2 linked regions of the Homo sapiens genome follow. The protein of the gene in region 1 interacts with the protein of each later gene in a pairwise test. Each region holds a gene or a part of one and is shown on either strand. Other genes may lie near its edges.

What was found.
Region 2: the proteins of USP48 (region 1) and DRD3 interact in a two-hybrid assay, tested with the Homo sapiens proteins (one study listed by BioGRID).

What each region holds. Positions count from the first base shown.
Region 1 is NC_000001.11:21,703,142-21,710,169, forward strand, and holds part of USP48 (ubiquitin carboxyl-terminal hydrolase 48), read right to left. Parts: intron 3,728-7,028; coding exon 3,603-3,727; intron 3,449-3,602; coding exon 3,326-3,448; intron 3,047-3,325; coding exon 2,985-3,046; intron 2,697-2,984; coding exon 2,586-2,696; intron 1,252-2,585; coding exon 1,121-1,251; intron 478-1,120; coding exon 371-477; intron 1-370.
Region 2 is NC_000003.12:114,141,037-114,148,064, reverse strand, and holds part of DRD3 (D(3) dopamine receptor), read left to right. Parts: intron 1-507; coding exon 508-650; intron 651-7,028. UniProt on the Homo sapiens protein: Dopamine receptor whose activity is mediated by G proteins which inhibit adenylyl cyclase. Promotes cell proliferation.

The DNA.
Region 1 (7,028 bases):
AACAATCATTTCTGTGTGAAATCATATGAATTTATACTTTATTCCTGATCTTCCTCACTAGGTGCCTATAATTTTGAGAGAAGGTATTATACCTGCCTTCTTTATCACTGTATCCCCAGCACCTGGACCATTCCTGGAACACAGCTGACATTCAGTAAATATCTATGCATCAATTAATAACAAACTAAATTCTCATATAATCACATAACTGTTCATTTTCAATTATTGTCCAATTTCAATTCTGATGCCAAACAGCTCTGAAGGAACAAAAATGCAGTCCTAGGCAGACCCTCAGTGCAAATACAACAGCAAATCAAGCCAAAGAGCACGCTTGATCATTACTAGTCATTGCCACAAGAGGGACCAGTACCTTTTTATTATCCACAACTTTATGGACATAGATGGTGGCTTGAGTGTATTCACGCAGGTCCCTCTGCTGCTGACACAATAAGCCTTCTCTGCATTCTGGACAGAGTTCTTTGGGGGAAAAAAAAAAAGGGAAAACAGAAGTGGCTGAGGAATCATTGTTAAAGAATCAAAGATCTAAAAACATATGTCAAAGTTACTAGTGAATATTCATTAAACTCTTAGTAACATTTTCTTTTTTTGAGACAAGGTTTTGCTGTGTCACCCAGGCTGGGGTACAGTGGTATGAACATAGCTCACTGTAGCCTCAAGCTTCTGGGCTCAAGCCATGCTCCTGACTCAGCCTCTCAGCGAGTAGCTCAAGACTACAGATATGTGCTACATTTTTATTATTTTGTAGAGAGAAGGTCTTGTTATGTTGCTCAGGCTGGTCTGAAACTCCTGGCCTTAAGCAATCCTTCCACCCTAGTCTCTCAAAGTATTAGGATTATAGGTATGAGCTAGTGTGCTGGCCCAAACTCTTAATAATATTTTCTATTAACCACTATATTCTATTACATGCAAATGATAAGGAAATCCATTTACTGTCCATAAATAAACGTACAAATAATGGGATGATTATAATGAGAGTTTCCACCTAGGGAGTTGGGACCGCCGCATGATCTTTAACTTTAAGCAGACAACACTGACACACCCTTTCTTCTTAAAATGTCAGCTCTTAACTATAGAAACCGAAAGCAATATGAAAACTTACTGGGCTCAGAAATATACTGTGTTTCTGAAGGGTTTACATCTCCCACTTCAATTCTCGTGATTTTAATTACATGATCCACAACAAAGAGCTTTTGTATCATTTGCCACTCACTGGGCCATATGAGAGCTATACTGTGCAAAAAAAAAACACAACATGCCTTAAGACACATGGAAATTAAGAGAATTAACATAATCCATTAGTCTGCTAAACCAAAACCATTAACACTAACATTTAATCCAAAGGAATTAGAGAGAAAAGATACGTATCATCAACAAAGAATAGTTTTTCATACAAAGGAATGTTACCACAGCAGCGAAACTAAATGGACTGAAATTACATGAATCAACATGGTTAGATCTCAAAAACATAATTGAGTAAAATAAGTTAGTTGCAGAAGTATAAATACAGTATGGTGCCATTTATATAAAAAGTTTTAAATATGCAAGACATTATGTGCGTGCATTTTTTTTTTTTACAGAATACTTTCTGAGACAGATAAACTCTAAATTCAGTACAGTGGTTAGTGTGAGAGGAAGGGTGGGAGAAAGAGAAGTAGCAACAGAAGGATAAGCACTGTGGGGCCTTTAATCATATTTGAACCATTTAACTTTTAAACTGAATGGTAACACACATTTGCTTACTGGTGTATTTTCCTGGAAGTCTGACATTTGCAATAACAACGACAGGAAGAAAGGGAGGGAGGAAAGAGAAGAGAGATGCACAGCGAGAGTGAGAGAGCAACAGGGAAGGCGGGATGCAGAGAGGGAGGGAGAGAAAGAGGAGGGAGAAAATGTAGAGAATATATAAACTTTGAACTCCCTTAAATGATGTTAAAGTACTGAAATATGAATAATAAAACTCTAGCTTAACCCCAAGGGCATTTTTATTTATGTGTTCCAATTTCCTTTTCCTGATTTTCTGACAATGTTGGAAGCATTCTACCTTCTCGTATATCACGATTTTTGGTAAAATCGGGAGAAATTCACAGATGAACACCTCTGGAAGTACTTGAAGCATGGAATAAAATTTGGGTTCTAAGACCCTAGAATTCCAGATGACCAGTGCAGTGGCTTTGCTCTGCCACCCTGCTAGCCTCCTCCTTTAATTGTCTGAAGCCTGGCCATGGCAGAACAAAACCTATAACCAAGACCATGTTGATTCTGTGATTCTGGAAAAGAGGTCTCAGCACTGGTCACCAGCAGCGGGGGAAGAGAAAGGGTGGCTGTGTTGTCTTCAAGAGGGACAAGGAAAGAGCAAAAAGACAAATAGCCTCGGGCAGCCTCTTGTCTTTCCTGGAGAAGCAGTCTTCTTCTCTTTTAAAAGGGGAAAAAAAAACCCCACAATTCAGCAAAGGACTAAATTCTTAAAACAGACTATGTCAGATGAGAAATTTCCTAAACATATTTTATTAATCATCAAAAAGAGAAAAGAAGAAAAAAAAATCACATGAAGAGAAGGAACTCACAGTTTAGAATCTTCTTTGGTCATGGAAGCAAATGTAAACATGAGGCCCCCGTGGGGACACAAAAGAGCACTGTTCCCAACTGATGACACAGGGCTGCATCTTGTAGGCTTTCTACTCAAATGAGACAAGGAGGAGAAATATACCTAATTACTGCATGACGAAAGAGAAGATTTTAAAATAATTATTTCAAAATCAGAGATATATTTAAGAAAATATTAGTAATTCAATGTGTTTCTTAGGCTTATTCATTTAATTAATAGAAAAGAAAGCTTTCAGTGTATGCTGGTGAAAGTAACCATGAAGGAAGGGTACAACAAACAGAATCCACGATATCTTAAAAAATACCAGAGTCAACCAAATCAGTAACAATAAAGGAAATAAAACATATTTTGTTTCTACCTAACAAATTTCCGCCACTCTTCTACAAAGAACTGAGACACGATGTAGAGGACATCCGTATCCTAGAACACAAAAATCACAAAACAGTATCCGTCAATTCACCGCCTGCTTAACACAAATTCCTTATAATATACTTTGGTTGTCCTTATTCAAGTTTTATAAATAAAATGAAAACACAGTCCTCTACCAAAAAATAGCAGGCTGGAGTAAATCCCCTGGTTAGATAACTAAACAAATGAGAATATGAGAAGTTCTGGGTTGTTCTGAAATAGCTCACTGGGAATTTGGCAAGGGCTTTAAAAAGAAAAGATGCATTCTTTCTTTTGTGGGAATCATTATACCTCTGGCCAGTTACTGAGACACGGTCTGTTTTTATCCTGGAACAAATTTGGGAGAGAAGTCTTTTGCTCGTTTGCAATCATCTTATGTAAGGCTTCATTTTCTTCCCCTTCTCTTTCTAAAATCTGAAAGAGAATGAAGCAATCAACTGTCTCCTGCTGACAGCACATGACCTGCCTCCTCCCTACACCCCCGTCAGAAGTACAGTGTTAATTCCCCTGGGAAGTCAACCCAGGGAGGTGGCATGCCATTTCCCCAGATGTCAGTAGCGTTCAGTACCTTGCACTGTGAACAGCACTCTTTGTAACTTGGAAACTCAGGAGCCTTTGGAAAGTACTGCTGCAGTTTGCTCCAAGCCTCTTTAGAAACAAGCCTTCTTTCATTTTCAGATATGCATAACTCACCTGAGTTTAAAAAAATATATTTGGAAAAAAAAAAAACAGCTGAAAAAAAGTCATTATCTATTTCCTATTTCTTAAACTTAAGAAAAATCCACAGGTACGCTTTTCTTGCTTTGCTAAAGTTTGGTATTTCTAGCTCTCTTTTCTTGTTTTCAAAAACTTCTGAATTTCCGATTTCATTTTAATTCTAAAGGAGGTAGCCATTAACCTCAATTTTACGTCCTTAATCTAGGTCTGTGATTGAAAAAAAAATCATGAGATAAAAACAAACGTACAAAGCTAAAACCGTGCATTTTCTTTCTCCTTGCAAGGAAGGAAGTAGTCAAAAATGGGATTCCAGGAGTCCTGGGACCTCTGTGCCATGGCAAGCGCTGCTTAACAAAATTACATCTACTCCCACACTCAAAGGTTATCATTTCCTGCAGACTTTATTGCCTCCCATTTGACTAATCTTGAAATCACACTGCATTAAAATAATATTTTGTAAGCTGTGTCCAGCCATCACAAGACCACTGCCTTAAGTTATCAATTCAAAGTTATCAATTCAAACAGAAGATAAAGCAATCTACTGCTCAATCTGAAAACCATCTCCAGTCAAGCACCAACTTCTTTGCTATTTGCAATTTATTTTGAAGATCCCCTTCAATCTTCAAAAATCCCAGAAGATATAAAAAAATAATACTAGTCACCGCCACCCTGCCAGGACCTTTCTCCTCTGGCTCTACTTGTGGTTATACTTACTGTTGTTTCAGCTGTTCCCAAGCAGTAAGTTAGTGAACTTCACTTATCTACCCATATCGGTCATTACCCAGAAAACTATCTTTAAATTTCTAAAGTCATATGTTTGTTTCTGCACCCATTGGCAAGGTACCTACAGATTTATTAAGAGTAATAAAGCCATGAGCTTTCTAAATACATACTACACTTTCCATAATAAATGAATTTAGAAAGATGAATATAACCAGGCAGAGTACAGCTAGTGAGTAATAAAGCTGGGATACGAAACCAGGTCTATAGGCCAGGCACAGAGGCTTGCTCCTGTAATCCCCAGCACTTTCGGAGGCTGAAGCAGGTGGATCACTTGTCAGGAGTTTGAGACCAGCCTGGCCAACATGATGAAACCCTGCGTCTACTAAAAATACCAACATCAGCCAGGTATGGTGGTGCTTGCCTGTAGTCCCAGCTACTCCAGAGGCTGAGGCAAGAGGACTCCTTGAGCCTAGGAGGCAGAGGTGGCAGTGAGCCAAGATAACCACCATTGCACTCTGGCCTGGGCAACAGAGAGAGACGCCATCTCAAAAAAACAAAACAAAACAACACAAAACAAAACAAACAAAACAAAACTAGGTCTGAGGCTGGGCTTGGTGGTTCACACTTGTAAGCCCAGCACTTTGGGAGGCTGAGGGGAGCAGATCACGAGGTCAGGAGTTTGAAACCAGCCTGGCCAACATGGCGAAACCCCGTCTCTACTCAAAATACAAAAATTAGCCAGGTGTGTGGCAGGCACCTGTAATCTCAGCTACTCAGGAGGCTGAGGCAGAAGAATCGTTTGAATGCAAGAGGCAGAGGTTGCAGTGAGCCAAGATTGTGCCATTCCACTCCAGCCTGGGCGAGGAGCAAGACTCTGTCTCAAAAAACAAAAACAAACAAACAAACAAACAAACAAACCCAGGTCTATAGCTCATTCGAACCCCATAATATATTTTAAAATTTATTTATTTATTTAATAGAAAACAGGCCGGGGGCAGTGGCTCACGCCTGTAATCCCAGCACTTTAGGAGGCTGAGGTGAGTGGATCACAAGGTCAGGAGTTCAAGACCAGCTTGACCAAAATGGTGAAACCCTGTCTCTACTAAAAATACAAAACAAATTGGCCGGGAGTGGTGGTGTGCACCTGTAATTGCAGCTACATGGGAGGCTGAGGCAGGAGAATCGCTTGAACCCGGGAGGCAGAGGTTGCAGTGAGCCAAGATCGCACCATTGTAATCCAGCCTGGGTGACAGAGCAAGACTCCGTCTCAAAAAAAAAAAAAAAAAAGAAAGAAAAGAAAAGAAAAGAAAAGAAAACAGAGTCTCATTCTGTCCCCTGGGCTGGAGTACAGTGGCACGATCATAGCTCACTGCAGCCTCGACCTCCTGGGCTCAAGCGATCCTCCTGCCTTAGCCTCCTGAGTAGTCTGGCTAACAGGCATGAGCCACCATGCCCGCCTAATATTTTATTTTGTAGAGAGGGAGTCTCTCGAACTTCTGGTTTTAAGCAACCGTCCTACCTCAGCCTCCAGAAATGCTGGGATTATAAGCATGAGCCACTATGCCTGGTCCCTATAATTTATAATACCTCAGAATGCAACTTAACTTCTACCCCTCACCTCTTCTGGATCTTTGAATAATCCCCAAAAGATTATTTTGCTTTAACAGACTTGTTACCAGAGAAATGGGGTCAGAATGTAAACATGTATTTCCTTCTGGGTGGGCTGTTAATTTAAATTTCCCGTGAGTCTATGAAAACTTATTCTAACGTGCCCATCCTCAGACACAATTAGGGAATTTATTTTTAAAAATGAAAGAAAAAGGTTAATTGGATTATCAAACCTTAACTTAGTAAGTCCTTATGTGAAATACAACGTAACCATAAAAAAGATTAAGGTAGATTTCCATGACCTGATTTGGAAAGAACTCCACGGCAACTACAATATTTAAATGGTTTCCTTTTTATGCTTTAAAAAAAAAAAAAGAGAGCTTCTTTGTGTGTGGTATAACCCCATGTGGTTATGAGGAAACAATAATGGGAATGCACACACAAACTTTACTATTAAATGAGCAGAGGAGACCACAGACACTGTGGGTGCACGGCTTCATTCTGATGTGGGGGTACTTTTAGGTAGTGACTGGCTTTTAAGTGGGATGAGTGTTTTTCATATGACAAGGAAAGAACAACCCAAATTCATTTCTGAGATCAGAATAATATTAAATAGTCATTTTACTGTAGTCTAGTTGGTAATAAAAATATATAGTCCTTCACTCTACTTGTTAGCTGAGTTTCTAAATATAATTTCCTATTATTCTAATAATTACTACCATAGTAGTTGTTAATATATCATTAATATTAACTATGAATATTAATACAATTAATTAAATTAATGTAATGAATGATAATGAAGTAAATATACTTGAATATTGTCTATGACCTCAAAATAGTTAAATAAATTTGGGTTGCTCTTTTCACTGGGACACATAAATTGTTAGAAATTAAACTTGTATCCTGCAATGAAACATGTTATTTCTTAAATTTTAAGAGAAAGCCA
Region 2 (7,028 bases), on another chromosome or scaffold:
TCTGCTATTTTTGACCTTTCTGCTTTTCTCTCTTCCTCTAACTAAATTATATTTCTCATGCTATATGTATCAACCTGATTATTTCTCTACGAACTTCTTTCATCTGGTCTTTTGAAAAGTTCCCCTCACTGGACTTGGTGGCTCACGCCTGTAATCCCAACACTTTGGGAGGCTGAGGCCAGAGACTTGCTTGAAGCCAGAGAGTTGCTTGAGCCCAAGACTTTGAGACTAGCCTGGGCAACAAAGTAAGACCCCATCTCTACAAAAAAATAAAATAATTAGGCAGGCGTGGTGGCGGCACAGGCATATCCTAGATACTCAGGAAGCTGAGGTAGGAGGATCTGATCCCAGGAGTTGAACTGCAGTGAACAGTAATCATGCCACTGCACTTCTGCCTGGGTGACAGAGTGAGACCCTGTCTCCAAAAACAACAACAACAACAACGCAGAAAGAAAAGTACCCCATTCCATCTCACCATGCCTATCCCCTCTCCCCTTGCTTTTTCAGGTACACTGCAGTGGTCATGCCCGTTCACTACCAGCATGGCACGGGACAGAGCTCCTGTCGGCGCGTGGCCCTCATGATCACGGCCGTCTGGGTACTGGCCTTTGCTGTGTCCTGCCCTCTTCTGTTTGGCTTTAATACCACAGGTAACAGTGATGGCTTCATTTCTAGCATCCATGTGATTCACAGCACAGCTGAATGACTGGCTGTGAGTTGTGCTCAGCCCTGCAATTTCTGACCCCCGGTCAGTGTACTTTGCAATTAAATGAGAATGCCACAGAATGCAAAGCTTTGGCCTTTGTGGGTTATAAATAAAATATAAAGCAAAACCTCATCAATTATTGGCACAGGGGGTAAAGTTCTGCCCCAATTAATGAAAAGTCTGGCTCATCTTTATTTTGAAAGAAATGTCATTGTATTCATTTGCAGAAATGTACCAGTTAAAAAAACCAAGATATATATTAATAATTCAGGCAAGGTTTGCTAATAAAAAGATAACAATTCATAACAGACCTACAATGCAAAATAACACATTGTAAAAGTCTTATAGTAGGATATATACTTCTAACTTTTTACTCAATAAGAATAATTTCCAATTCTTCAGAACTAACCAGTATAGATTCCCAAATTCCTGGAGAGTATATTTTCTATTTTTAATATAAAAATTCTGGGTATGATGGTTGGCACATGGTACATCTCCTGGGTGGATGGATGGATGGACAATATATATGTCTGAAATGCTCGGGATTTTAAGCATGACACCAATACCTCAGATGAATCAGTGCCTTCTGTGTTTGTACCATGTCCATCTTTTAGCCTCACTAATTTTTTTTCTTTTTCTTTTTCTTTTTTTTTTTTTTTTGAGACCAAGTCTCATTCTGTCACCCAGGCTGGAGTCCAATGGCACAATCTAGGCTCACTGCAACTTCTGCCTCCTGGGTTCAAGCAATTCTCCTGCCTCAGACTCCCAAGTAGCTGGGATTACAGGCACCCACCACCACGCCCCACTAATTTTATATTTTACCCTGTTGGCCAGGCTGGTCTCAAACTCCTGACCTCAAGTGATCAGCCCGCCTCGGCCTCCCAAAATGCTGGGATTACAAGTGTGAGCCACCGCGTTCGGCCAGCCTCAGTAATTTAACGTGTCGAATGAAAGGTATTAAACCACATAGTAACATGATGGGTATTGACAATATACACTGCGTGCTAAGGAAAAGCTGCTTGATTAGTGTTCCAGTGGTCATCTGGATTTCTTATTTTGTCCATTTGAATTGATTCATTCAATGCCTATATTCCAGGTTTGTAAATGTCTAGTATATATGTACCAGTCACATAGCCATGTGCTTGTGTGTATGCAGATATTATATGTAACATATTACATATAAATACAGGCAAATTCTAACTTTAAGTAATCTTCCAAGTGTCATTTGCTGGACAATGATTTAGAAATCAAAATATATTTTGGAAGATAGGTATAGGCTCTGGAGTAAGTAAAATCTAAGTCCAAACTCCAAATCAAAGTCCAGACTTACTAGCTGTCTCTCCTTAAACAAGTTACTTAACTTCTCTGAGTTCCTCATTGGTAAATGTGGGATAAAATTACAGTGGAGCATACACTTGAGTGAATTAAAATAAGTAAACTTGATCTACATATTTAGTTAAGACATTTTTAATATTTATTTTTATATATGACCCCCTACAAATGAGCCCAGCAATTTCATCTCTAAAATTATATGTTCCATAGGAACTCTACAATATATGATATATTACTATATGTACCATACAACTTATTACTCTGCAGGGTTATAATAAAACCATGTATATCTTTACATGTGATTCAGATTTTCAAGGCAAATTTGGAGTCTATATAATTTTCACTTTATTTATTGACTTTAGAATCTAAGACTACATATAACTCCACTCCAACTTCTTCAGAGAGATTTTTGCCATTAAATGAGGATTAAATTGGGATAACATATGTAAATATGCCAAGCACGTACCGCCTACTCAAGGCTGGCTTGTTTCTCTGCCACAGTAAAGGGTAACTAGCCAACTTATCAACAAATATTTGCCTGTTCAACCCAGGCTATTCTCAAAATATGGTGATGTTATCTTTGCGTTACTGTTTACCTTTCATTACTTTGTTATTTTAACTGAATGACACTTTATACACACAAACATGCACACATTGCCCAGTACAAAGCAACATCCCTTAACACAGCTACAGAGGCTGACTCTGTGGCACTAAAATATCATTTTTCGTGAATGCTAAATGTGCTTTATGAGTTAGTCTGATAACTAAGTCACCTTCTGTAACCTTGTTTCTATATGAAAATGCATTCTTAGTTGGAAATTCTAGTGTGGGAAACTCACCACTGCTAGACCAAGGCACTTCTTACCCTCTAGCCAAAAGCAAATCCCTGCCAACATCTGCTGGGCTGACTGTGGTTCCCCTGACTCATTCTTGGTGGAGGCGGTCTTATTCACTCTCACAGACACACCACACTGGAAACAGTTGAAACAATCTCAAAAGCTGACATTAGACTGAGTTCTCGGTTAATGTCGACATCCAGAGTGAAGAAGAATGATGAATTTGCAGTGTTGTTGCCCCCAGTGAGATCATTATTGTTCCAGAAACAAAATTCAGGAAAGTTTTTTCCAAAAGGATTTTTAAGTATAGAATTGAGAAGGCAGAAAAGGCCTGTGACTTAGTATGTGCGCTCTCACTTCTCTCTCGTCTCTCACAATCGCTCTGTCTTTTACATTTAAGTTTATTAATAGCACTCTAGCAAGCCTTCCAATTATTCATATATTGTGTTAAAGTGTCAGGTTCCATTGTAAGAGCTCAGTAGATATTAGCTGGTGTTATGGTTGTTATTATTTATTGGAAAAGTTTATACATCAAAATGTAACTATACATCTGCAGTCGTAAGAGTTCTGCTGATGGTTTTAGAGATCAGTCGCCCCTTCCTAGAACACAGTTAGGGGATTTAGTAAGTGAAGCTCAGGCCCAGCTGTCCTCCTCTGCCTCAAGCTGACCTTCACTGTACAGCTTCATTATCTTGATAGATGTGGGTTCCTGCAGCAATTCTCTCATCTATAAGGAAGTTCCCAACTTCATTTGAAAGCCCAATATAAAGGACTCTTCTCAGTCATTTTTTCTACACCTTCTGTGGAAAATCAAGGGGGAGAGGGCAGGATCCTGCCAATAACACCTGATATTGGAAGCAGCTGGACTTTCACTAATAAGTGCAACACAAAAAAAGAACTTTCTGGCAGAGCTCTTCTTTTAATGCCATGGGCTGCCACACGAAATTGTGAATTATTAGAGAACATAAGATACAGAAAAGTTGAACTTCAGTCTCTTCCAACTTGGAGTTGCTCCTGTTCTCAGATGAAAGGTCAATATGAGGCAGGGTTTTGGGTGAGAGAGTTCCGAGGCAGGGGCCTGGCTGGCCAGGGTTGCCTTAACTCCCAGCAGAGGCCCAGCAGTCTAGGCAAATATCACATCATCAACAGACCCTGATACAGCAGAGCATGGTGTGCTGGTGCCAAAGGAAACTCTGAAGATGCCTGAATGAGCAGCCCAACCCTTTCATTGCATAGATAAGAAAAATAACTAGTATTTAAATTCCTGCTAAATCAGAAAGCTATTGTGTTATTTTTAAAAATCTAGAATGAATAAGCAAAGAGTGAATAAGCTGATGATAAGAGTTTAAGAAATCTTCAAGGGAGGAGAAACTTAAAGTTAAGAAAACTCTATCAGCTGGCTTGATTTTCCTTTGAAAGAAGGAAATGGAGGAGTGCTATTTATTTGATTTCATCAATAGAACATCTCACCTAGTTTTCAGAGCACTGGAGCTAGGTTGGGGGAGGGGGAGCTTAGTTGCACAAAAAGTTAAGAGAATAGTAGAAGCACAAAATTAAAAGAATAACAGGCCCATCCTAAAATCAGATTCATTGGCACCGCATGTCTTTGGAATCAAGCTGGGGTCAAATCCATCAATGAATTTGAAGTTCATGAATCTTTCAAGTAAACCTGCTCTGAGCCAAGCTGTCCACATCATGGTGGGTCTCAGTTTCCCAAGACAGCCTGCAAAAGCCTCATAGATGCCTTTGTCTTTTTCACCCAGCACAGTGCTTTAAACATAGTACGTACTCCACAAAATTTGTAGAATGAGTAAATAGATGACTCTTCATCATCATCCTTTCTTCCTGAAATGTTGAGATTAGTTGGGATAAGCATCTCTAATCTCAGAGGAGGAGTAACCTCCCCTCCCCCGGCACAGGCCTTCTCCATTATCCTCTGGTCAGTGAGTGCTCATGTGTTTATATAAAATGCTCATTTGTACATTTTGCTCATTTATTTATTATTTATGCACTTGCTCAATAACTATTGTGCTAACAAAACAACACTCTTGCAGTTAAATCATCAAAACAAGGCACCTCATCTCCTGGGGAAGTGTCAGCTTCTGGGGGGCATTACAGCTTTCCTTACCTCTTTGGTACACAGCAGAGAAGGTTTCAGAACTGCTGCTGTGTGGTGCATCACTCTGCCCTGCCAACAGGACACACACCCAGGGCCAGGCCTGCTGGGGGCTGGGGCAGGCCCTACTCATTGGCCACCCACCTCCAGTGTCACTCTGCCTGCAATGGGGACATTCTGGAAGAGGCTGCAATGCTTGATCTAAGAAAGGGAAGCTGTTTGCTTAGATAGGGGAGGAAGGAAGAGATGGCAATGCAGGTTCTGTGATTATATGTGAGAGCCTTCGTTGACTAGGGACCCTGAAATAGCTATATGCCCTCTCAACTCTCTCTTTCAATATTTTTAATGGAGAAATAAATGCTTGCACATAAAACATTCATAAGGTGCCCATGAGATACATACATACTTATATGTAGGTCTCCCTTCTACCCCAGATTACTACATTCTCCCATCTCCCTCCCTAGAAACAAACATTAATATTCTTGCAAGATAATGCTTGCAACAGTGTGCATGTCCATACACAAATATGTTTATGTATGTGTATGTGTATTCATTATTACACAAATAGAAGCATACCATACCCCTATCTGACCCTGACTTTTTAAAAGAAGTAGCTCATATATAAAATTTAGAGGTCAGCCTCCCAGAACCCAGAGTGGGTAGGAAAAGGTAGAAAGTTAGGTGGAGGGACCAACAGGGAATATCCGGGACACCAAGGATGACAACAAGATGGGCAGTGCCACCCCACTGGCCTCTTCTCACACGTGAGACATGTGAAACGCCTCCTTATCACAGGCAGGTTTTAAAACCATAGTCAGATGCTGACAACAGAAAAGCTGACTTCAGAGAAGGAGCAGATCACCACCAACGTGGCTCCCTAGAGATTCTGAAAGACCACGCACTGCCACCCTATCCCTCTCCCCAACTCCATCACCCCCAAATACCAGCAGATGCCAATTTGGTGAACTACACAGAGCCTATGAGCCATTTTCTTTTCTTTTCTTTTTTTTTTTTTTTTTTTTTTTTTGAGAGAGAGTCTCGCTCTATCGCCCAGGCTGGAGTGCAATGGCGCGATCTCAGCTCACTGCAACTCTGCCTCCTGGGTTCAAGCGGTTCTCCTGCCTCAGCCTCCTGAGTAGCTGGGATTACAGGTGTGTGCTACCACACCGGCTAACTTTTGTATTTTTAGTAGAGACGTGGTTTCACCATGTTGGTCAGGCTCGTCTCGAACTCCTGACCTTGTGATCCACCTGCCTCGGCCTCTCAAAGTGCTGGGATTACAGGCGTGAGCCACCATGCCTGGCCCCTATAAGCCATTTTCTAAAGGATGATGACATAGGCTTTGGTGAAACAACATGAAATTTACCTGAATTTTACCTCCTCTTCAGAGAACCAGAGAATTTAGGAGTAGCTTGTAAAGATTCTAGTGGCAAAGATGTCAGTAAAATGCATCACTGGTCACTGAGCACACTCTTTTCGTTTTAGTTCTTAGCTGTTATTTCCTTCCTTCTCCCACAAATATTGCTCCCTATAAGTCTGTCTCCAAATTCCCATTTCAGATGTTACCTTCCCTTTCAGTTCAAAAGGCTCAGGGGAGAGAAATAATAAATAATAAATAAATAAATATTAAGAATAGCTACCATTTATTCTCATTAATTCTCACAACTACTATACAATATTTCTAGGCTTTTTCTTTTAACAGGTAATAAAACTGAAGCTTTGCATATTTAAGAAATGTGTCAGCTGGGTGCAGTGGTTCACGCCTGTAATCCCAGCACTTTGGGAGGCCAAGGAGGGTGGATCACCTGAGGTGGGGAGTTTGAGACCAGCCTGACCATCATGGAGAAACCCCTTCTCTACTAAAAATACAAAAAAATTAGCTGGGCATGGCGGCCCATGCCTGTAATCCCAGCTACTTGGGAGGCTGAGGCAGGAGAATCGCTTGAACCTGGGAGATGGAGGTTGCGGTGAGCCGAGATCGAGCCATTGGATTCCAGCCTGGGCAACAAGGGCAAAATTCCGTCTCAAAAAATAAATA